Regions from separate parts of the Homo sapiens genome. Here region 2 is linked to region 1. Evidence: fine-mapped expression QTL. A gene starts in region 1. The other region holds a variant in brackets. All regions are shown on one strand. Distances are from middle to middle.

Region 1 (12,001 bases):
GCTTCCCACACCCTCCCATCACAGTGGACCACAGCTTAGTGACGCTGGGTGGGTGGCCCTTCCCCCCTGCAGGCGCCACAGGCAGGACCTAACCCCCCCAGAATCACCCAGTGCTCCCCCAACCTGCTGAGCGTGGCTCAAGAGGGTTTTCCTAAATAGCGTGTGAAATCCATTAGGAGAAAATGGGTTCAGAAGGAGGAAACAGGACTGCTTCTCAAACACCCTGGCCTAGGAAGCTACATTTCTAACAGGCTCTAAGGGGATTCTCACAGAAAGGGGCCCAAGGATGGTGTCACTGAAAAACAGCACATAAATAATAACATAAACGATGACGCACTACAGGCTGCACATCCACATACAAGGGAATGTCCCAGAAGTCACTTCTGGGACAGTGGCAGCAGGTAAGACTTCCAGCTAAAGTCTGCTCATACTCTGCGTGAACAATGTGTTGCACGCTTGGACCGACACTCCTATGCACAGCAGCTAGAGCAGCAACACTTGGAGGAAGCGCCACACAAAACAGACCTAGACAGTTCACAGTCGTGCGTCTGGTCTTCTCTGCAGTCAACCAAACGCACTGCACAGACCTTGGCCTGACACAGAAGTCATTTCCTTGGCTGCTCTGTGCTGTCTGGGTGCCAGGTCCTGAGAGCCAGGGCTTCATGTCGATGCTTCACCCCAGTGTACCCTAGAACCTGTTCTCAACCTCTGTGCCATGACCCTGTCCACCCCCCGCCCCCGATCTCTCACTGCAGCACCCACTCTCTGCCCCACCTTGCTTGGCACCATTTTCCTGATCCTCACACCACCGTCCCAGACTCTTGTCCTGCACTGGGACGCCTCGCCAGACATGGAGCCTGCATCCCGGGGCTGGGAGCCCCACCCAGGACTTCACCTGGTAGACATGCCCTATGGTGCCATCTGTCCCTACAGTAAACTCTGGGTGAAACCAGCCTCCTCCTCCTTCTATTCCCAGGGCCTGGCACCACCTCTTCCAGCCTTTCTGGGACTGGAAGAATTTGACCTGCCTTCCCAGGGAACAATAAACAGAAGTAGGGCATTGCGCCCACTGTCCTCAAGGCAGCTGGGAAGTGAATGAAAAATGCTGACAGTTCCTTCAGTAAGGAAGAAGACAGAGTCTGAGGGAGAGTTAAGATATCTGGAGTCAAGGGCAGAGTGGAAGGGGAGGGGAACGTAGATGGGTGTAGTCCAAATGGAAGCTAAAGTTTCAAAGTCCCATGAAGCCTTACAAGGTCACAGAGACAAGAGAATAGCTTTTAGATCCCAACCTCAGTTTCCTCATCGGCAAGATGGGTGTGATAGTTACTATAAGGATCGAATGACATAATGGATTCAAAGCACTTTGCCAACTGAAAATAAACTGTATTTCTCCTGAGGCATAAGTATTTCTAAAAAGGAGGCTACAGGAGTTACGGGCTCAGTAATAACAGGAAGTGGTATCTGTGCAAAGGCTTAAAACTGTTGAGCCCCACCAGGGCTATGTGGTGGAGGCCTCGCTCAGGGGACACGGAGGCCATTTGTGTAAGGGGTGCCGCTCTTGTCCCTGCTCAGGCTTCTGGTGAACAGGGGCCAGGAAATCCCACAGCCCGGTCTAATGACAGTCACTCTTGCTGACTGGCCAAAGAGCAAGGCTTGGGAGCAGGCAGAGTGGTGTTTCTGAAAGTGTGGGCCATCATATAAGAGTTACGTGCACGCTAATCTAATACATTCCTGGGCTCAATCCCAGGCCTGCTGAGTGAGACACTTTGGAAAACTGTAATTTTAACAAGCGCCTTCAGTGACTCTTACAAAAGTTTCAGAAGCACGAGCAAAGAAATATTCAAAAAGCTGTGCGGGCGGGAAGACCTGGGTCAAATCCCAGTACCACGACCTTGCTGCTGTGTGACACTGGGCAGGTTTACTTAACCTCTCTGAACCCGTTTACTCTGTTTACAAAAATATGGAGCATAACCACTGCAGTGTTGCTGGGAGGGTGAAAGGTACTCAACTACAGAGGCACGCATCCATGGCTTCATCCAAGCTATGAGTGCCTGTGTCTAAGGCATTCGTGAATGCCTACGTTTAAGAGGCAGGAGCCACTCTGACCCTCCTCTTTTAGGGGAACAATCTGCCACTAAGAGAGCATAGGGCTTCCTAGAGTCTCCCCATGCATAATGGAAGCCAGATACCGCTAATGTTCTATTCAGAAGCCCATCTCAGTCCCTGTTCCGGGGTCAAGCAAGGTGAGGCAGGAGGTAACGATGGGCTGAGCTTTGGAGGAAAGCTAAGACGACCCACCTTTCTCAGGGACAGGGCCTTGAGGTGGTCCAGGCTGCTGGACACAGCTCCAAGATGGATCTACCAAGGGGCTCTCCTGGGGTGGAGAGCATAAAGGATGAAAAGGCCGCAGGCCTCTGGACAGGTCCGCCGGAGACTCTAAAACTCAGGGAGGGAAAAAGAGCAGGAGTGGTCCATCGCAGGGTCACCCCTGGTACTGCCCGTGGCAGGGCTCACAAACACCCCACAGCCTCTTTCCCCCAGGAAGCAGGTTAAGATGAAGAAAATTAGGCAGGCAGCTACCGGGCGGTGCCTGGCTCGCGGCTCATGGCTCACAGTGGAGGATGGACACTGCTGTTATTTCCCCTGCCCTGGTACCTGGGCCGTGCCAGACATATCAGCACTTGGCGGCAGTTTCACTTTGCTGCTGTCCTGAGCCGAGCTGTTAGCAGACTGAGCTTTACTGTCCTGTGCCGGCTGTTCAGAGACCACTGTGCCTGGCCGAAGACTGAGGCAGGGACTTCAGGCCAGGGGGCCAGGCTGGCTTTTCCTGCCTTTCACTTCAGGTGGGAGCGGCTGTGGATGAGGATGTCCAGCGGCCGTCGGTTTCTAGCCTTGGGATCATTCTGGCCCCGACACGGAGTGACAGGGGATCCCCACGCGTCCCCGCATCCAGGGCGCCCCTTTAGCTGCGGCGGAGGCACAGAGAGGCCTTGGCGGCGCTGTGGCTTCGGTCGGCACCGGGTCCCGCGCAGCCGGGCCCTCCACCCTGAGTGGAGCTGCCTTCTAAGCACCCAGCCCCTGCCAATCACTGTGCCCAACACCAAGTTCCCGGGGCGCCCTGCCCTGCGCCACCGCGCGCTCGCTCGCCCGCCCGCCCAACTCACCTGCTGAAGACCAGGCAGCCCAGGTGGTTGATCTTGTGGTCGGAGCGGTGGCGGCTGTAGTCCTCCCACAGGTCCCTGAAGGCCGTGATGGCCAGGATGAAGAGCACCGGCGCCAGTGCCAGGCCGGGCTGGAAGGCGTTCACCGCCGGCACGAAGTTGAGCAGCGCGATGAAGACAAAGTACACGTTGGCCGGGCGGTGGAACTGCTCGAACAGGTTCTTGGGCAGGAAGGACAGCAGCGTGTACTTGGTAGTCTTGAGCCGGTTGTCGGCCAGGTGCTGGGCACACCCGCGCCGCCGTCGCCGCTCGCCCTTGGCCGCGCCAGCCGCAGGGTCCTCGGCGCCCGGGGGCGGCAGCAGGTTGGAGCGCACCGTGCGCGTCCTGCCCTCTCGGCGCCTCCGCCGTCCCGGAGGCCCGGGCTCCTCGGTCCCCGCCGGCTCCCGCTCCATGGCCGCGTGTCGCCGCGCCCGGCTCCTCCGCCGCTCACGCCCGCCCGCGCCGGCCTCTTAGGTTATCATCACTCGCGGCCCGGGCGCGGCGGTGCGAGCTCCCCGCCTGCGGGACGCACGGAGACCGCGGTCAGCGCGCCGCCTGGCCGGCCCAGCGCGCCCAGCCCGCGCCCAGCCCCGTCCACTCCCGTCCAGCCCCGCCGCCCGGCCGCAGTCCCCAGGGCGCAAGCTGGGCGGGTGCCGCACAGAGCCCCCTTGTCCTCGCCGCCCGCCCCCGGCCCGGGTCGTTTCCGCCGCGGTGGCCACGGCCCCGCCCTCGTTCCGCGCCCGGACTGGGCCACGCCGGATAGCGGGAAACAAAAAAAGCCCGAGCTGGAAACTTCAGAGAGGTTTAGTTTCGTTTCCCAGAAGCATCAGTTCGGTCCCAAAACGCTGCAAACGCGCGCTGCCTGCAGTAGGAGAGAGGAAACCGCGAAGCGCGAGAAAAGGCGCCCCCGTCCCCAAGCAGCCCGCGCGCCCTTCCAGGGGCCAGACCTGCTCCATCCTGGACGGCGAAACGACCTCGGGAGACCCCGGTTAGGACCTTACTCCAGGGATCAACTGGAATCAAAATCCAAAGGATCCATGGCATCCAGTGCTCCAATTTTTAAGTCTTTTTTACGCAGGACCTCTGCTCCTGGGGAGCCCTGGGAAGGGCGATTCCGCGTTGCCTCTAAGAACTTCTTTCCTACCCCACTTCCCAGCCCCCACCACTTTCAGATTCCGTTGTTGGGCGAACTAGACCGTTTCCTTTCCACCATCATCATTACTGCCTTTCCTTCCTCTCCTAAATAAATTCTTTTTCTTTTTTCTGTTCTTTCTTCATGGAAAGGAGAAATATATCGCTATAGCAAAGACAGAATTTGGTTTGCAGGTATTTGAGTGTCTGTTTCCCTCCCTGGGAAATCATGAGGACCGAAACGCTCCTTGTGCGCTGTAGCTCTGAGGTGGCTGTCATGGCCCGGACGGCGGGGGAGGCGAGGATGGTTGTGGGGAGGCGAGGATGGTTGTGGGGAGGAGAGGGGAGCGTCAGGAGGGTGTCCCAGAAGTGTGGGGCGAAGGGCTCCCCTCCACATCATGGGGCATCCGAGAAGGGGTGGGAGAATAAGCACGGCATGGAAAAAGGAGCTGGGAGTCCCCCACGTCCGCAGTGAGACCCCACAGATGTTTCATGGCTGTGACTGTTTGCCTCCCACTCAAGAAGTACAGAGATGAGAAGCAGTTATTTCTTGCCCAGGAGGCCGTGGCTGGGCGGTTGGCCGTGGCCCCAGGCTCTTCCTGGGGGTGCCTGCTAACAAGGCACTGCCCTGGATGGACTCAAATCACGTCTTCGCCAGGACCCTGGCTTGGGGAGGCCCTCCCCTCCAGCACCCTGGCTTACCCGGCTCCAGTTATGACATTCTTACATCTCTGCCCAGTTTTGCCACCATCCACAATGTTGCCCAGAACCCAGTGTTAGAAGGTAGAGTGGTGACAGGTGTGAAGAAAATAATCCCATCCCCCAGTCACAGGGGTGGGCTTTTGACATGTAGAGGCCCAGATCAGGGAAAGGTTTGGCTGAAGTCTGCATTGTTGGGGAAAGGAGTCAGGTCTCACAGTCAACCAGCAGAAACCCAAACGGAGCATCAACTGCAAATGAAGGCCCACAGCGCCTGCAGTCTTGAGGCCTCACATCCCATGGCTCCGTGTTTTCCTCTACCAGCCCACCTGGTGACCCCCGAGGCCTTCGGCCTCCCTACACTTCGGCCTCCTGTCTTCACAGGCATCCCCGTGGACCCTTCGCCCAAAGTCTCCAGGGGTGTCCGCGCCTACCAGACTCCCAGCTTCAGCCAGTCCACACTGTTGCCAAAGTAATTACCGCCTCATTCCATTTGCTTACCCTGGAGCTTCCAGGAGTACTCCTGGTGCTTACAAAGCCAAATGCTGATTCCTCAGGCAGAGGTCCCTTGAGGCCCTGAGGGGAACCAGCTTGCTGATTTTCTTCAGCCCCTCCCTGGTTCAGGCCCAGCCCCAAGGTGAGAGGTCTCCTTATCCTTCTCAGAACAGTCCTTACTCATCCCATCCACATTCCGCTCTAAGGTTCCAAGATTCTGTGAGTCACAATGCTCCTCAAGTCTGGAATCTTTTTCCACCTGCTCTTCCCCAGTGCAAAGTCAGGATTTCCAGGAAGGCCTAGCTCAGCTCACCTCTGGAAAGGTCTCCAAGCTGTGTGATCTGGGGAATCGTGGAGGGGTTTTGAGCTCAGGTGTCTTCTGCCAGCTGGACTCTGAGACCCTGGCCTGCTGGGGCGAGGATGAGGCTCTGATGTGGTCTGGTCAACTCTGGGTTGGCCATCTGCACCACAGGGCTCTAACAAGGGCCTGCTATAGGCCATGAGAACCACTGTAAGTGTCCTTGTTCGGCAAATACTTACTCATCCCCTGCTGTATGCCCGGCAATGTTCCAGGCACAGGAATTCATCGGAGAGCTAGAGAGGACAAGATGTTGTCATGGAGCTGCAGCAACTGAACGAAAAACCATGAGAGCCCACGGAGGGCTTTGGAAGGGATGAGGGATGGCCTTTTCGAAGAGAGGCACTGGAGTTGAAACCTGAATGGGACAAGATCAGGTGGAAGAGGCTTCCAGACAGAGGGGGCAGCTCTGTCAAAAGGTCCCAAAGAAGGAGAAATCTCAATGTGTTTAAGAAACAGGTGGGGCTTCTGCCTCACACTCATTCTAAAACCTTCAACCCCACAGCTTCTGCTTTAGGCAATGGGGACACCTGGGAAACACAGTAAGTTTCTGCTCCCCGGAACACTAAGTCCTCACGTGGGAATCCCAACAAAGATGGCTCAGAAAATGAAGGGACACCTGAAACCAGGGCTGGGAGGGGTGGGATCCTGCTCTTGCTCCTGTCAATTGGGCGGTCCAAGGAGGCTTCTCAAGCAACACTGAGCGGAGGCCTAGGGACACAAGCTGTGCAGGCACCTAGGGAAGAAATGGTAAGCACGGGGCGGGATAGGGAGCGTTCAGGGATTTCAGGCCCAGCAAGGAAGCCGGGGTAGCTGGAGCTGAGTGGGAGATTGGAGACGTGGCCGAGAGTGAGGTCATGTGGGGCCTTGTGGATCCCGGTGAGGATTTTGGCTTTTGAGCGAGAGGGAAAGCTTGGGAGGATTTTGAGAAGTGGCATCAAGTGGCTTTACCGAGGTTTCCAGAGATCACTCCTGCTGCAATGTAAATAGAATGTAGAGGGCCAGGGCAGAAGAAGGGAGACGTCGTGGCGAGCGGCCACTGCAGTGATCCTGCAAAGGTGCTGTGGCTCAGGCTGGGTGGCCATGGTGGATGTGGGACATAGCCTCCTCAGAGCATGCGGGACATGCTGTTGGAATGGTTGTGGGATGTGCAAGAGAGGAGGTGAGGGTGGCCCAACAGCTAAAAACCCAAGTTTCATCTAGTGAGTTGGGAAGACAGAAGATGAGGCAGAACTGGAGGTGCCCACCAGCCCTCAGGAGCAGGAGTCGTGCTGGCAGTGGTGATGTCAGTCTGGGGTCAAGAGCAGGTCTGGATGCAGGAGAGGGTAGCCATGAGGAGCAGCAGAGTGGCCAGCATTTAGGGCTTCACTAGCCTTTGGAAAGGACAAGTCTCTGGATTTGCTCCAACTGCAATAGGGAGCCATGGGCTGCCCCAAGCAGAGAGGCGTGAGATGAGAAGATCTTATATGCTCTTTTAATAGATAGAAAATTGATTCCGAGCAGAGTTGGAGCAGGAGAGGTGTAAATTAAGAGGTGGCTTACACCTGGCATTGGATAGACAGACATGGACAAATTGGAAGTACGTCTTCCAGGCAGAGCTAATGTGACTGGCCAACAGGTTGGATGTTTCAGTGAGAAAAATAAATGAAGTGGTTTAAGGAGAAAATGCAAGCTCAGCATAAGCCATGTTAAGTGTGAGATGGCAAGTGGGCAGTGGCGTATCGAAGACCGGACATGACAGCAAAGGTCCACACTGGTGACACAGCTGTGGGGGATGCTGGGAGACACCTGGGGGTTAGAGCTATGTGATGAGATCGCACCTAGATGCGCGAGATGCACACAGGGCATAAAAAGAGACTCTGGGTGTTACTTTCCAACTAAGAAGTATAGAGAATTGAATGAGACAATCATCAAGATTGTTTCCAGTTTTCAGATACCAAGAATCAGTACCTCTAATGGCTGGTGAAATAAATAATTATGGAATAAGTAAGAATCACAGTCTAAAACATTTTAACCTGACAGCATTGTTTAATATTTACTCTAGTGACTGCCCTTACAAATAGGCATAACAGATTCTGACATTTTTAAAATTTTTATTTTAAATATTTTTAATTTTTGGCTGGGCGTGGTGGTTCATTCCTGTAATCCCAGCACTTTAGGATACGAGGTGGGCAGGATCACTTGAGGTTAGGAGTTCAAGACCAGCCTAGACAACATGGTGAAATCTCGTCTCTACTAAAAATGCAAAAATTAGCTGGGCATGGTGATGCACACCTGTAATTCCAGCCACTTGGGAGGTCAAGGAAGGAGAATTGCTTGAACCTGGGAGGTGGAGGTTGCAGTGAGCCGAGATTGTGCCACTGCACTCCTGGGTGACAGAGCAAGACTTCATCTCAAAAATAAATAAACTATTTTTATTTTTAATTTTTAGAAAGAGACAGGGTCCCCCTATGTTGCCCAGGGTGGCCTCAAACTCCTGGGCTCAAGCAATCCTCCCACCTGGGTCCAGCCAGATTCTGAAATTTGTAATATGAAAAACCAGGCACAGATGCTACCTATTAATTAATATGGCCTCAGCATCATCCAAAAACTTCCAAAATACAGAGCTGTGAAATTTTGGACAAAAGTAATTGACTAATGATTGAGTAAGCTAAATCTATGATTATGTACATAATCCTAAAAATACAAAATTCTGGCCGGGCACAGTGACTCATGCCTGTAATCCCAGCACTTTGGGAGGTCGAGACAGGCGGATTACCTGAGGTCGGGAGTTCGAGACCCACCTGACCAACACAGAGAAACCCAATCTCCACTAAAAATACAAAATTAGCCGGGTGTGGTGGCACATGCCTGTAATCCCAGCTACTCAGGAGGCTAAGGCAAGAGAATCGCTTGAACCAGGGAGGTGGAGGTTGCAGTGAGCCGAGGTTGTACCATTGCACTCCAGCCTGGGCAACAAGAGTGAACTCCGTCAAAAAAAAAAAAATATATTCTAGAGAGAGAAGCAAAAATTTATATTTTTTATTTTTAAGCTTTTCCTTATCCCACATACCATAATTTCTAAGGAATTCATAGTTTGATATGCCTGCCTGAGATAATTTGTTCTCCGTTTTTCCAAACTAAATTTCCTTTACAAAACACATGATATTTTTCAAAAAGATAAATGTACAGTTGTGCTGGGGAGCTGGGAAAAAGTACCTTCAGAAGACGAAAAGATATCTCAGAAGATATTGAGGGATGTCAGGAATACATAAAACTGATGAACACATTAGCGGGAAAGTCTAACACATATGAGAAAACATATTGTCCACGCGCGGTGGCTCATGCCTGTAATCCCAGCACTTTGGGAGGCCGAGGCGGGCGAATCACAAGGTCAGGAGTTCCAGACCAGCGTGGCCAACATGTTGAAACCCCGTCTCTACTAAAAATACAAAAACTTAGCAGGGCGTGGTGGCGCGCGTCTGTAATCCCAGCTACTCGGGAGGCTGAGGCAGGAGAATCTCTTGAGCCTGGGAGGCGGAGGTTGCAGTGAGCTGAGATCCCGCCACTGCACTCCAGCCTGGGAGACAGTGCGAGACTCAGTCTCAAAAAAAAAAGAAAAGAAAAAAGAAAACATATTACAGAGTTAAGTAAGCAAGGACACTTTTTTTAAAAAAGTGAGTTTTTCCAGTAGATCCCTTGAGAAGGCTCAAAATCAGAGAAAGCAGGCCATTCTAGGATGAGGCGCAGGTGGGAAAATAACGAGGCCGCCATGTTGCTACATCCAGGATGCCACTGCAAGTCCCACGCTGGTTATTTCAAGTAGCTGCTCTTAAGACCGGCTGCTCCTTAAGGTTACCTGATGAGCTACTAATGCCCAAGCAATGCCCAAGCCTTGCTCCAGACTCAGTACACATGGGGACCAGGCCCCAGCACCCAGATTTTTTAAAAGCTTCTTGGGTGATTCCAATTGCAGCCAGGTTTAAGAACCTCTGGTCGATATCTGCAATGATAAGCATGAATCTATATTACAGTCAAGAGTCACTGGATTGTTTTAGAACAACTGGTAATATGAAAAAAAAAAAGCAAACTTCACCCAAGTGAGTTTCCCCTCTCTGAGGAAAAAGAGCCAATGCAGAACACAGACAATAACATTAGAAATCACCGTTATTGTCCTTAGATATCCAGAAGACCAGCCCATCTATAAAATTGCCATGGAAAGGAAGTAAATGAGGAACAGCCAAAAATTCTTGGAAGTAGAAAGCACAGCAGGTAACACATTAAAAAAAAACCCACAAAGTGGCAACATTAACAATCTAGATGGTCATATTGGGGAGAGGGTGGATCCAGAAAAATCCCTCTCACTTTTGCCTGCGCCAGTAGCAGACCAAGAAAATTGGGACAGCCCTTCAGGAGACATCTAGGAAAGATGGACAAAATGCTTACAAAAAATGTATTTTAAAGCCACAGGGAACTAACAGGGCAACTAAGATAATGAAACCAAGACCGGGCAGAAGGAAGACACCAGAGAGCTCAGCCCAGCTGGGTTGCAACTCTCCAGGCACTTCCTACACAACCCACCCAGGGCTCCACATCCCCTTCCAGCTCTATTTGAATTTGCACCGATAGGCATCCCACGTGTTAGCTGACTGCCTCTTCTCCTTCGTGGCAAGACGTTCAGCTCCACAAGGCAGGAGTCAGTGTCTGCCTCTTTCACTGCTGCAAGGTAGCCCCTGTGCCTAGAAGAGCACCGCGCAGGGTGGCTTCTTACTAAATATCCGGTAGATGAATGTTCACCTTCATTCTGTGATGGAAAAACATCAACAGAATTTTTTGAGAAGTAGGTTTTGAATATAAGCTTCTCTGTTAGTCAAATTGATATTCAACGATCCTGACAATTAAATGCATTTGCAGACAAGCAAAGACTCAGAGAGACAACACTTGTGCTTGTGTGCTGAAAGAAAAAGTATTTACCTTGATATCATGCTAACGTATTTATATAATAAACAAAATATAAATTAATAAGGAATAAGCACGTATTTCGAATAGATTAACAATCTCCGGAAGATCTTGAACGGGTCCTCAGAATCTCATCTTCCAAAACCACGCAATGGAGAATATTTGACAAAGTTTACAAAATAGTTTATTCCTCAATTTTATTTATAATGCAGTACAAAAAGATATTGAAACCCTCTCAATTTATTCTGCAAGGTTAGCAAAACCTGCTATTAAAACTGGATAGCAGAATTGCAAGGGAAAATAGTTTATTTGTAGTTTTCTTTTTTATTCTATAGTAATATTTATAGGTGTAAAGGCAAAATCTATCACTATTTGCAACTTTGTGAGGTTTTTTTTGAGACAAGATCTAGCTTTGTCACCCAGGCTGGAGTGCAGTGGAGCAATTACAGCTCACTGCAGCCTCGACCTCGTGGGCTCAAGTGGTTCTCCCATCTCAGCCCTCCAAGTAGCTGGGACTACAGGCATGCCACTATGCCCAGGTAATAAACTGTGGTTTTTATCAGGGAAGTAGTTAGTAATGAGGCTAACTATACAATAAAGATGTACAAATCAGTAAGTTACTCCTATGCAAGCAATAGCCAATTAGAAAATGCAGTAAATGAACAAAAATGGTCTCATTTTTAGAATAAAATATTTAAGGAAAAATAACAAAAACCAGTTCAAGATGTTTGCAAATAATTGTAGCAAACAACAGCAGGAGTAATATTTGGCCTGTGTAGCACATGTAACACCAGCCAGGCATGTGCTTCTCATTTTCTAGTCATTTTCTCCGCCCTCCTGGCCATTCACTGAGACAGGAGAATGTTTATCCCAATATTATAGATGAGAAGTATGTTGTCACATGACTAGTCAACTTAAAATTTTACTGAATGTGATAAAGGAAGATCTCAATAGATATAAAATATGCCATGTCCCTGATTGGAACTCTGAAAGTAACCAGTTGATCTTATACATTTTCCGAACTAATATTCCAGCTGGATTTATTTTTTCAACTCAACAAATGAACTATAAAATAGCTGTATTAGTCAGGATTCTCCAGAGAAACAGCAAGAATAGAAGATAGATATTAATAGAAAGATAGAAATAATTAGCTAGCTAGCTAGATAGATGATAGATAGAT
Region 2 (12,381 bases), 19 kb after region 1:
TTCCTTTCTCTGTAGTTATGATCTTCTGGCTTGGTTGAAACTTTAACTTTTTTTTAAAATAAAACTTGGGTTACAAAGGATCATAAATCATTCTGCCATAAAGACACATGCACACGTATGTTTACTGCAGCACTATTTACAATAGCAAAGACTTGGAACCAACTGAAATGCCCATTAATGATAGACTGGATAAAGAAAATGTGACACATATACACCATGGAATACTATGCAGCAATAAAAACAAATGAGTTCATATCCTTCACAGGGACATGGATGAAGCTGGAAACCATCATTCTCAGCAAACTAACACAGGAACAGAAAACCAAACACAGCATGTTCTCACTCATGAATGGGAGTTGAACAATGAGAATACATGGACACAGGGAGGGGAATGTCACACACCAGGGCCTGTTGTGGGGTGGGGGGAAGGAGGAGGGAGAGTAAAAGGACGAATACCTAATGCATGCGGGACTTAAAACCTAGATGATGGGTTGACAGGTGCAGCAAACCACCATGGCACATGTATACCTACATAACAAACCTGCACATTCTGCACATGTATCCCAGAACTTAAAGTAAAAAACAAACAAACAAACAAAACAAAAACAAAAACAAAAAAAACCTTAGGTTATATTTCCAGTAGAATTGAGAGGGTATTTTTTGTTTATTTTCTTTTTTGTATGTTTTTTGAGACAGAGTCTTACTCACCCAGGCTGGAGTGCAATGGCACGATCTCAGCTCACTGCAATCTCCACCTCCTGGGTTCAAGCAATTCTCCTGCCTCAGCTTCCCAAGTAGCTGAGATTACAGGCAGAATTGAGAGTTTTAGTTCAAAAAAGTGAAAGTTTAAATTTAGCATTTTTATTATTAGAATGATGGCTCTGGCAAGTGCAATAATTTATAAACTCCAAGCAAATGAGAGTGCTGCAGAAGACAAAAATATAAAAATATAGGTACAGATTGGAGTAAAGCATGCATTTTTAAACTGTTTCTTTTATTAACGTCACACATCTATTTCTCAGCTGTGTCTGCCAAATGCATTTAGATCCTAGCATCCAGGGACTCTGCTGGCGTGGTGGAAGGTAGCGTAGCAGCATTGTCAGCAGAAGACCTTTCCATGGCTCCGCTTTCCTCAAAATGAATTTTTTGAAAACCAAGCTACTTAAAAATCTGTTTCCTTACTTTACATTTGTTGAAGTTTCTTTGTTTGTTTTAAAGGTTGGACAACATGTTGTAAAATATAACCTGTATATGATGATGTTTATAAATCATTAAAGTACAAATTTAAAAAGAAAATGAAACTCTTGGCAATTTACTTTCATTTCTTGCCATATGATGGAGTCACTGATACCAGACTAACCTTTCCACCATCAACAACTATAAATATGGGCAAAATAGGTGAGGAGTTTTGTTGTTTTGAGACAGGATTTCACTCCGTAGCTCGGGCTGGAGTTCAGTGGTTACGATCATAGCTCACTGCAGCCTTGACCTCTGGGGCTCAAGCAATCCTCCCACCTCAGCTTCCAGAGTAGCTGGGACTACAGGTATGTGCTGCATACCCACCTAATTTAGTTATTTACTTTATAGAGAGGAGTCCTCACTATGCTGCTCAGGCTGGTCTCCTGGCCTCAAGCAATCCTCCTGTCTCAGCCTCCCAAAGTGTTGGGATTACAGGCATGAGCCACGGTGTCCAGCCAAGGTAATTGTTTCTGAGCACCAGGCAATAGCAAGATTGAACTGTGATCCCTGAAAGAGGAAGAGAGTGTAGGGTGGGCACCAAAATTGCCTCTGTTTGCCACCTGAGGGCATTTTCCAAACTGCAGCTGGAGATGGGAGGAAGTGGAATCCACCCAGAGCATGACTGATGGTCTCACCATGTAATAGAGGCCTTGCTTGAAGCTCAGGGTGGCTTAGGCAGCTGCAATTTGAAGGACAGGGTATCAGAAAGAATGGGGAACTGTGCAGAGAAGGAGTTTAAAAGTCTGCACAGTGTCTGCTTAAGTCTTTGGCTAGATACTAAGCTATGCTTCTGCGTTGGTCAATTGCAAGGCCTGGCAGTGAGCAGCTGCTAGATTGAATGGAAATTCCAGAGACTGTGTAGTGCTTGGAGTGCTGGGAGACACAGGAGTTCTGCCTCACCAGAAACAGAATGGTGAACACTCTGAGTATTCAAGTGAGACCACAGCAAGGCCATGTCTGAGGGACAGGACTACATCAGTCAGAGTAAGGGCTATTCAGCCAGGGGCGATGGCTCACGCCTGTAATCCCAGCACTTTGGGAGGCCAAAGTGGATGGATCACCTGAGGTCAGGAGTTTGAGACCAGCCTGGCCAACACGACGAAACCCTGTCTCTACTGAAAATACAAAAATTAGCCAGGCATAGTGGCACGTGCCTGTAATCCCAGCTACTTGGAAGGCTGAGGCAGGAGAATCACTTGAACCTGGGAGGCAGAGGTTGCAGTGAGTCAAGATTACGCCACTGCAATCCAACCTGGGCGACAGAGTGAGACTCTGCCTCAAAAAAAAAAAAAAAAAAAAAGAGTAAGGGCTACTTTAGACCCACAATGTCAATATCAAAGTCCAGAAGCAAGCCTTAGCTGGATCAAGCTGAACCACCAGTACCTTAACTGGCTGCCAGAATAAAACGCACAGATCTAAAAGAAGACCAAGAAGAAAAAGACTCTCAGCAACCTAGCATACACAATGGTCATAATAAATTTTAATATAAGGGACATCAGTGGAAAAAATAGAAACTGTAAAAAGAACTAAATGGATATTCTAGAACAGTACAATGTATGAAATGAAGATTTCACTGGATGGCCCTAGCAGTAGATTGAAGATGATCAAAGCATACTCTGCTTACATTCATATAGATAAATGCAAATTATCCAATCTTAATATTAGGGAGAAAAAGTATGCAGAGATTCATTGAGCTGTAGGACAATATTCAATAGTCTACAATATGGAAAGATGGAGTCTTAGGAGGAGAACAGAAAGAGAATGAGTCAGAAAAATGTTTTGAGAAAATAATGGCCAATTATTTCCCAAATTTGTTTAAAATATAAGCTTCCATAAGCCTCCAAGAAGCTCAGAAAACTGCAGGCAGGATAAATAAAACAAAAATACAACTAGGCCCAATAGAGTCAAACAGCTGAAAATCAAAGATGAGGAGAAAATCTTTAAAATAGCCAGATAAAACCAGACATGTTACATAGAGAGAAATTATATATAAATTCAGCTACTTCTCATCAAAACCCATCAACCTATAATTCTATATCGAGGAAGAAATATCTGTCAAAAATAAGGACAGTGTGAAATAAGGACAGTTTAAGATAAACAAAAGCTGAGAGAATTCACTACCAGCTGACCTGAGTTAGAGGAGAAGCTAAAAGTTCTTCAGGTGAAAAGAAGTGGAGAAGACTGGATATTGTAAATATAAACCAAAAAAGATACTGTATTATATTTAATTTCTGAATGTCTTTGAAAAGCAAGCAATTGTTTAAACAAAAAATTATACCAATCTATTGTGAGGTTTCTAACTTATGCAAATTTAAAATATATGACACTGATAGCAAAAAAGTGGAGGTTAAATGAAATCGCACTCTCACTGCAACACTACAACATATAGTTATTAAAACAACAACAAGTCAACATAGTGGACTTCTAATACATTCAACAAATTAGATGTTATAGGATATTTCTTTGAAAAACAGTTTACCAAAACCAGTGCAAGATGAAGGTAAAATTTGAATAGCTCTATATCAGTTAAAGATATTAAATTCAAAATCTAAGTCCTAGGCCAGGTGCAGTAAGTAGCTCATGCCTGTAATCCCAGCACTCTGGGAGGCCTAGGCTGGAGGATCACTTGAGCCCAGGATTTCAAGATTAGCCTGGGAAACATAGTGAGATCTCATCTCTCTTAAAAATAAATTTAAAAAATTAGCCAGGCATGGTGGTGAACACTTTTAGTCCCAGCTTCCTGGGAGACTGAGGCAGGAGGACTGCTTGAGCCTGGGAGGTCGAGGTTGCAGTGAATCATGATTGTGTCACTGCACTCCAGCCTGGGCAACAGACCAAATGTCCATCTCAAATTTAAAATGAATAAAAATAGAAATAAAAACAAAATCAAAGTCCTTCCCATAAAGGAAACTCCAGGCCCAGGTGGTACAATTACACACAGATTAGAATGGCTCAAGTGAAAAGGAATAATACCACCAAATATTGGCAAAGAATGTGAAGCAGCTGGAACTCTCAGGCATTGCAGGTGGAAGTGTAAAGCAGGTACTGAGGCGGGAGGTGGGACTTGACTCCAGAGGTGGGGCTCAGACTCCAGACCAGATTGAAGACTAGCTGAAACAGGGAAGAGGCAAAAGCACCTCTCCATAAGACATGCCCACCAGTGCCATGTCAGTTTACCATTGCCATGGCAACACCAGAAGTTACCACCCCTTTCCATGACAATGACCTGACAACCCAGAAGTTACCATCTTTTTTCTAGAAATTTCTGTATAATCCACCCCTTGATTTGCCTGTGATTAAAAGTGGGTATGAAATGACTGCGGAACCCCCCTGAGCTGCTACTCTGGGCACACTGCCTGTGGTTAGCCCCGCTTCACAAGGAGCAGTACCCCCTGCTACTGCTGTGCACTGTGCTGCCATCAAAGTTGCTGTTTAACACCACCGGTTCACCCTTGAATTCTTTCCTGGGTGAAGCCAAGAGCCCTCCCAGGCTAAGCCCCAATTTGGGGGCTCGCCTGTCCAGCATCAGCACAACCACTATGGAACTATGTGTGGTAGTTTCTGTTTTAATGAAATATGTTTATCTGTGATCAGCAATTCTAGTCCTAGTCATGTACTCTAGATAAATGAAAATATATGTACATAAAATGGTTGTTCATTGCAGCTTTATTCAAAATAGCCAAAAACTAGAAACCACTGCAATGTCTATCGACAAGTGAATGGATAAACAAAATGTGTTATTTCCATATGATGGACTGTTATTCAATAATATCAAGGATACATTCAAGAACATAGATGAATCACAGTACATTATGCTGAGTGAAAGAAGCCAGAGATGAAAGACTCCCTAATGTTTGATTCTATGTAGATGAAGTCCATGGATAGGCAAAACTAATGTAGCTTGGAAAACAGTCTAAACAATGGTTGCCTCTGGCATTGAGGGGTGGAAAATGATTGGAAAGGGTCTTAAGGGAACTTTGTGAGGTTTTGTAATATTCTATTAACTGAACAGAATGCCAGTTGCCTGGGTTTTTGCATTTCTTTTTACTTTTGTTGTTACCTTTAAGAAGGAAAGGTGTCAGTGGCTGGGGAAAGCATAAGGGATCTTCTGGAGTGTTGGCAATGCTCTACTTCTTGGCATGACTGTATTTACTTTGTGGTAATCCTTTAACTGTACATTATGATGTGTGCACTTCCCGGAATGTGCAGTATGCTTTTATAATAAGTCAAAAATTAGAAGCCCTTTGGATGACTTACTGTCGATATATGCTATCCTCCCACAGTCTAGTTACGCGTGGCATCTGCATAGTCAGGCTCAGACATTCTTTAGCCACCCCTGAAGCTTGACTTCCATGCTTGAGCAAATACTTCCTAATCCTGAGAGCTGTCAGGGTTCACTTGAATTCTCTGGTGCGGTAGGAATCATTGTGCCTTTCCCAGAAGGAAACTGATCTAATTGGCTTAATGAAGCCAAGAACCTCTTATTCAACTCTCTTTTCCTTATAACAACATGGTATTATTTCTTTTAATTATGGACTATCACATGGAAATTGCTGACTTATTCTAGCTCCATTAAGTGGACACACTAAGATGAACCAAAATACTTACAAAAAGCACGCAAACACCCGCTGCCTGCCTCTGCTCCCTGCACTCAGTCTCTGTGGTCCCTTGCACCTCACCTTCCCAGTTTGGCTCTGCTTCTTGGTTCAGCTTTAACAGCCTGCTTAGTGCATGCCTCTGTAGCTCCTAGGTCCTGATCTGAGAGAGGGTGCATCTGGCCAAGTGCTTTCAGAGGGAGCATGAGGAGCCTGCCCTGACCTCTCTTGGCCCCTTATTGGGAGA[C/T]GCCCTTTGGCTGTGATGCATAACCTTACTTTAATGTGGTTGCTGTACACAGCATATTGGATTCCGCCTCATAATAATCTGCAGATCTGTGAGTCTGAGCAATCGATGCCTGTCTAACTGCCACTGTCACTGCATTAGGCTGTCAACTTTCTCAAAGACCTTTCCTAATGCACTGACATCCAAGTCAGTCCCTTTTTATTTCATTTTGTTATTATTTTTTAGAGACAGGGTCTCTCTCTCACCCCAGCTGGAGTGCAGTGGCATGACCATAGCTCACTGAAGCCTCAAACTCCTGGGCTCAAGCAATACTTCTGCCTCGCCTCCTGAGTAGCTGGGACTACAAGCACATACCGCCATGCTGAACTAATTTTTAAGTTTTTTTTTTTTTGTAGAGACAGGGTCTTATTATGTTGTCCAGGCTGGTCTCAAACTCCTGGTCTCAAGCAATTCTCCTGTCTCAGCCTCCCAAAGCGCTGAGATTAGTGGTATGTACCTTTTTGACACTACTCCAGTTGTGTTTGGCAGCTTCCTTCTTCCTGACTTACTTATCTTCAGAGCCCTCATCACCACCTGGTGTTACAGTCTATGTGTTGATATCATTTTCTACATCGCCCCCAGCCTATTTGAATATAAAGTCCATGAGAGGGAAAGGATAGAAATTGTGTTTACTTTGTCCTCTCCTGTAGCTCCAGTACCTGCAACAATGACTGGCGCATAGTAGATTGTCCATAAATATTTGAAAAATGAAAAAATGAGACAATTGGGAAAAGAGAATGAGAAGCTGATAAACATTTGTTGTGCACACACCATAATAATAATAACAATAATAATAATAGTAATAATACAGATGCTCCTCGGCTTATGACGGGATTACGTCACAATGAACCAGTGGTCAATGGAAAATATCTTAAGTAGAAAGTGCATGTGATATACCTGACTTGCTGAATATCCTAGCTCAGCCTAACCCACCTCACCCATGCTCAGAGTGCCTGCAGTTGCCTGCAGTTGGGCAAAGTCATCTCACACAAAGCTTATTTTATAATAAAGTGTTGAATATCTCAGATAGTTTATTGAATACGGTTGAAAGTGAAAAACAGAACAGTTGTGTGGGTTCTCCAGCTACTATTTCTTTTCTTTTTTTTTCTTTTCTTTCTTTCTTTCTTTTTTTTTTTTTTGAGAAAGGTTCTTGCTCTGTGGCAGCCTTGACCTCCCAGACTCAAGCCGTCTTCCTACCTCAGCCTCCCCAGCAGCTGAGACCACAGGTGCCCGCCGCCACCATGCTTGGCTAATTTTTGTATTTTTGGTAGAAACGAGGTTTAACCACGTTGCCCAGGCTGGTCTCGAGCTCCTGGCCTGAAGGGATCCATCCATCTCAGCCTCCCAAACTTGTGGGATTACAGATGTGAGCCACTATGCCTGGCCTCAAAGTACTGTTTCTATTGAGTGTGTATTGCTTTCACACCACAGTAAGTTTGAAAAGTCTAAGTCAAACCGTCGTAAGGCAGGAACCGTCAGTCTAAAAAAGGCATAGATTTTGAGAAAAAGGGAGGCAGAGGAGTTGGGAAGAGAGGTTATAGGACTGATGAAAGATAGTGAAACCAATGCGGATGTAACAAAACACTGAATCAAAGGCAACAAAGACAGGGGTAGGCAGAAGCCAGGAAGGGACTGGGCCAAGTAAGAGGGAAAGGAAAAGGGGGTTCCCTCTGTCCCTTCTCCCTCAATCAGGCTTGTGGGTGCAGGACAGGACGCTAGGCCGCCTGCCATATAGAATTATCTGTGTTGGTCTTCTCCTTTCCTCCTTCCCTGGACTCTGACGTCTTTGTCAAGTCTGGGATGAAGTGGGTGAGAGAAATGCCTTTTCATCATGAGCTTCCCTGAGGTCTCTCTTTCTCCACATGAAGTTTCAAAAGTCTATTTTGGGATGCAAAGGCTGAGAGCTCCAACACTGGGTCTCCTCTCCTCTCCCGGCCAACATTCGAGAGCTGGTAAGACAAGACCTCAAGTTGCTGCCAAAATGGAAGGAGGCCATGGGGAAAGACGGAATGATAAGCATGTCGGTTCAGATCAACATGTTATCTCACCACATGGGTGTTTGTTAGGAAATGAATGTGTTTGTTCTTTTGCATCAATCAGGAGCAGCAGGGAACATGGAGGGGTGGAGGGATGGTGAATGGGTTTGTTTTAAAGAAAAAGACCAGTGAGAGGGGAAGTTCAAGGCCTCTAGTCAAGTCACCCGTGCTTTCTCCCAGGCCCTCATCTCTGTTCCCTTCCCACGCAGACTTGCCCAACCTCCCCATTCTGTGCCAGCAGATCTGGGTGCTTACGCCTGGCTTGGGGAAGTGTGTGTCTTGGAGGGGAAAGGGTGTGGGGACTTCACTTGTATGCACAGTGCACCAGATTCCACAGAGCCTCTGGAGCCCAGGGTTTTTATCATTATGTTTGTTGACTTATTATGTAAAAATTGTACTTTGTTGCTTTTTTATTTGCTTGTTTTAATTGTTACTTGCAGCCATTTTTCCAAACGGCTGTTGTTCTTGAATGTTAGCTGTGCTCACACTTTCCTCATTATTGGTTCCTTAGTGAGCTTTCCTTTCCTTTATTCCTTCCTTCCTTCCCTCCCTCCCCTCCCCTCCCCTCCCTTGCCTTCCCTTCCTTCCTTCCTTCCATCCCTCCTTTTTCAGACAAGGTCTTTCTCTGTTGCCCAGGCTGGAGTGCAGTAAGTCGTGTGATCTTGGCTCACTACCGCCTCAACCTCCTGGGCTCAAGAGATCTTCCTACCTCAGCCTCCTGAATGGCTGAGACCACAGACACTCACCACCATACCTGGCTTTTTTCTTTTTTTTTCTAGAGACAGGGTCTTGCTCTCTTGTCCAGGCTGGTCTCAAACTCCTGATCTCAAGCAATTCTCCTGCCTCAGCCTCCCAAAGTTCTGGGATTACAGACGTGAGCCACTGCATCTAGCCTGTCCTCTATATTTTTGTTTTTTAAATATTTATCCTTTCTTTCTTTTTTTTGGCCTCAATGTATAACTGTTATTTTCTAGATTTGATCTGAGATGGAATCATGGATCTTCTTTGTATTTTGGAATGAAAAGAGGTGTGAGCCAGGGTAAGATTCTGCAGGAAGACCTTTACTGGGCTGAGGCAAGGATGTGAGACGCAGTCCAGTTGCTACTCTGAAACCTGTCCTTGAGGTTGCTGAGGAGTCTGATGCCATGACTCCATGGGGGGTGGTGTTTACACCTTGGGAGTCCATATGGCTAAACTACAAAAGAAACATGTGACCCTGGTCTTTGCTTATCGTATAACAGCAGAAGCACAATATAGAAAATCTTTCTTTGCAGGCTGTTTGGATCTTACCCTTTGTGGTAGCTCTGTTGCATTCTCTAGCAAAGTGTTTTCAAAACCTTCTTGACCAGTGACATACTGATAAGTATTTCGATCATATAAGTGGTTTTCTATTGCAAACAATATGACTCAAAACATACATTACACGTATACCTTTGGCACTGACTGAATTGATATAGGCTAGATTCCTAGAACTGGTATCTCAGTCAAGGAAACATGCATTTGAATTTGAATAGGTGCAGTCCTTCCAAAGAGCCCTTCCAAAATGCTGTGCCACTGCATGGAGTTTGTATCTGCCACTGCATGGAGTGAGCTATTTCCCTACGTCCAAACCTATAAGATACTATCCATCTGTCTCTTTTGCTTATCTGATGGGGAAAATTGGTACTTCATGGTTCCTAAACAATTTTGAATACTAGGGGATTTTGACTTTGAAGCTTCTTTCCTTTCCAGGTTTTCATAATGGAAAGTAGACTAAAGGGAAGATATTGAGGGTGGGATGTACATCAGAGAGGCCAAAGGAAGAAAATCATTATCCAGGTAGGAGGAAAAGAGGGCAGGATTTAGGGTATAAGGGAAGATGTAAGAAACTTGTAGGGAGCCACCTCCTTGCCAGTGCCTTCTCTCCATGCCCATCCTGACTTTTTGCAAGTTTTTTTTGTTGTTGTTTGTTTGTTTGTTTTTAGAGATAGGGTCTCTCTCTGACACCCAGGCTGGTGTGCAGAGGCCTGATCCTAGCTCACCACAGTCTTGAACTCCTGGGCTCAAGCAAACTCCCGCCTCAGTCTTCTGAGTAGCTGGGACTACACGCGCATGGATGCCACCATGGCTTGCTAATTTAAAACAATTTTTTTTTTTTAGAGACAGGTCGCACTGTGTGGCTTAGGCTGGTCTCAAACTCCTGGTCTCATGTGACCCCCAGCCTCAGTCTCCAGAGTAGCTGGGTCTATAGGTGCAAGCCATCACGCTCGGCTGACCTTTTGCAAATGTGAGTACAGATGCCCTCCTGAGACTTGGCGGCAGAGTCGCATGCAGGGGAAGGAAGATCTAAGGCTTGATCTCTTCTGAGGCGGCCAGCCTTTGAGAGATTCACGTCAACCGCTAAGGTCACCTGCTGCCCCCACATTCCTGTGGAACTAAGTGTAAAGAGCTTTTGATCTTGGGTGGAAATAAGGCAGAATTTATTATGTCACTAGAATCTTGTTTTTTTTTTTGAGTCGGAGTCTCGCTCTGTTGCCCAGGCTGAAGTGCAGTGGCGGGATCTCGGCTCACTGCAAGCTCCGCCTCCCGGGTTCACGCCATTCTCCTGCCTCAGCCTCTGGAGTAGCTGGGACTACAGGCGCCTGCCACCACGCCCAGCTTATTTTTTGTATTTTTAGTAGAGACAGGGTTTCACCATGTTAGCCGGGATGGTCTCTATCTCCTGACCCCGTGATCTACCTGCCTTGGCCTCCCAAAGTGCTGAGATTACAGGCGTGAGCCACCGCACCCGACCGCTAGAATCTTTTTAAGGTCTCCAAGGCAGAGGAATGTGTGCGGATTCATAAGCTGCCAAGATTTAAGAAAAAAGAAAAGTTAGTTAGGTGGAAAATTCAGATAGGATCCTAAAATTGCTACCTTCAATTTACTGCTTTTGAGTTGGGAAAGGAAATAAAGGATTTGGAAGCATTATGGGGAAGGCATTTAGGCTAGAATGGAAATACTTATTCATATCGTTCCTGCACTGGGTGGACCAAGCTATGAGCCACATCCGTCTTTGCAGGAATAAGAAATCATGAGAGGGTCAAATTATGTGGCTGGCATTTCTGCATAACATACCTCCCACTTAATGGGCACATAACAATTTCTCTAGCACGTTCTATTTATCAATAAAATCTCATTTTAAAAAAATATTTTATCTTTTTACAGCAGTTTTAGGTTCACAGCAAGATGAGCAGAGGGTCCCAACATCTTCTCCGCCCCCACACAAGCATAGCCTCCCCTACCGTCCATATTTCCAGCAGAGTGGCACATTTCTTTATGATTGATGAAGCCACATTGATACATCATTATTACACAGAGACCACAGCTTACATTATGCTTCACTCTTGGTGTTGTGTATTGTGTGGGTTTGGACCAATGTATAATGCCCTGTATCCGCCGTTGCAGTATTGTACAGAGTAGTTTCATTGCCCTAAAAATCCTCTGTGCTCCCCTATCCATCCCTCTCTCTCCTCTAGCCCCCAGGAAATGCCGATCACTTTCCTGTCTCCATGGTTCTGCCTTTTCCAGAATGTCGTTCAGTTGGAACCATGCAGTGGGTAGCCTCTTCAGATTGGCTTCTTTGACTCTGTGACATACGTGTCACTTTCCTCCATGTGTTTCTATGGCTTGATAGCTCATTTCATTTTACTACTGAATAATATTGCATTCTCTGAATGTACCACAGTTTATTTGGCCATCCACTTGCTGAAGGACATGGTGGTTGCTTCCTAGTTTTGGCAGTTATGAATAAAGCTGCTATAAACATCCCTGTGCACATGTTTGTCTGGACACAAAGCTTTTACCCATTTCATATATTCATTTGCATGGTTGCTTTACAGTGCCAGGGGCGAGTGGGTGGGGATTTTGTGGAGGCTGTGTGTTTTGGCTGTGAAAGACATCTAGCAGTCCTAGTAATGCCCTAGCTCCCATGAGCAGTGCTTCCTAAGGGCTCAGAGAGAGAGACTTTGGGACTATGCAGTACTGAAAAGGCAAGAGGTAACGCAAGCTGTAGCAACGCATTTCACTGCAGTTGCATGCCGGCAGCCAGAGACAATGCCAACTGAAGTGGATGCAGCCAGGGGAAGTCTGAAGAGCAGCCAGGCTCATAAATTTGAAGAGTGGAAAAGAATTGCGATGGCAACTAAATATTGCTCTGTAAAGTAGCCAGGCATAAGTCTTATACAGCAGTGACTTTCAAACTTTAGAA

The links. PIP is the estimated chance that this variant, and not a neighbour inherited with it, causes the effect.
Region 2: its variant is fine-mapped to the expression of ATP10A in tibial nerve (GTEx, PIP above 0.99). The same link has a PIP of 0.9 or more in fibroblasts.

Annotation. Positions count from the first base shown.
Region 1 is chr15:25,859,484-25,871,484 of GRCh38, forward strand. It overlaps ATP10A (ATPase phospholipid transporting 10A (putative)), which reads right to left and starts at 3,844. Exons shown (of 21, transcript NM_024490.4): 1 at 3,165-3,844. The coding sequence starts at 3,613. It overlaps ATP10A-DT (ATP10A divergent transcript), which reads left to right and starts at 5,787. Exons shown (of 2, transcript NR_183988.1): 1 at 5,787-6,425.
Region 2 is chr15:25,878,571-25,890,951 of GRCh38, forward strand. No RefSeq gene overlaps it. Among named protein-coding and RNA genes, the nearest start is that of LINC02346, 18 kb to the right of the region's middle. The variant C/T (reference allele first, on the strand shown) is at 6,082.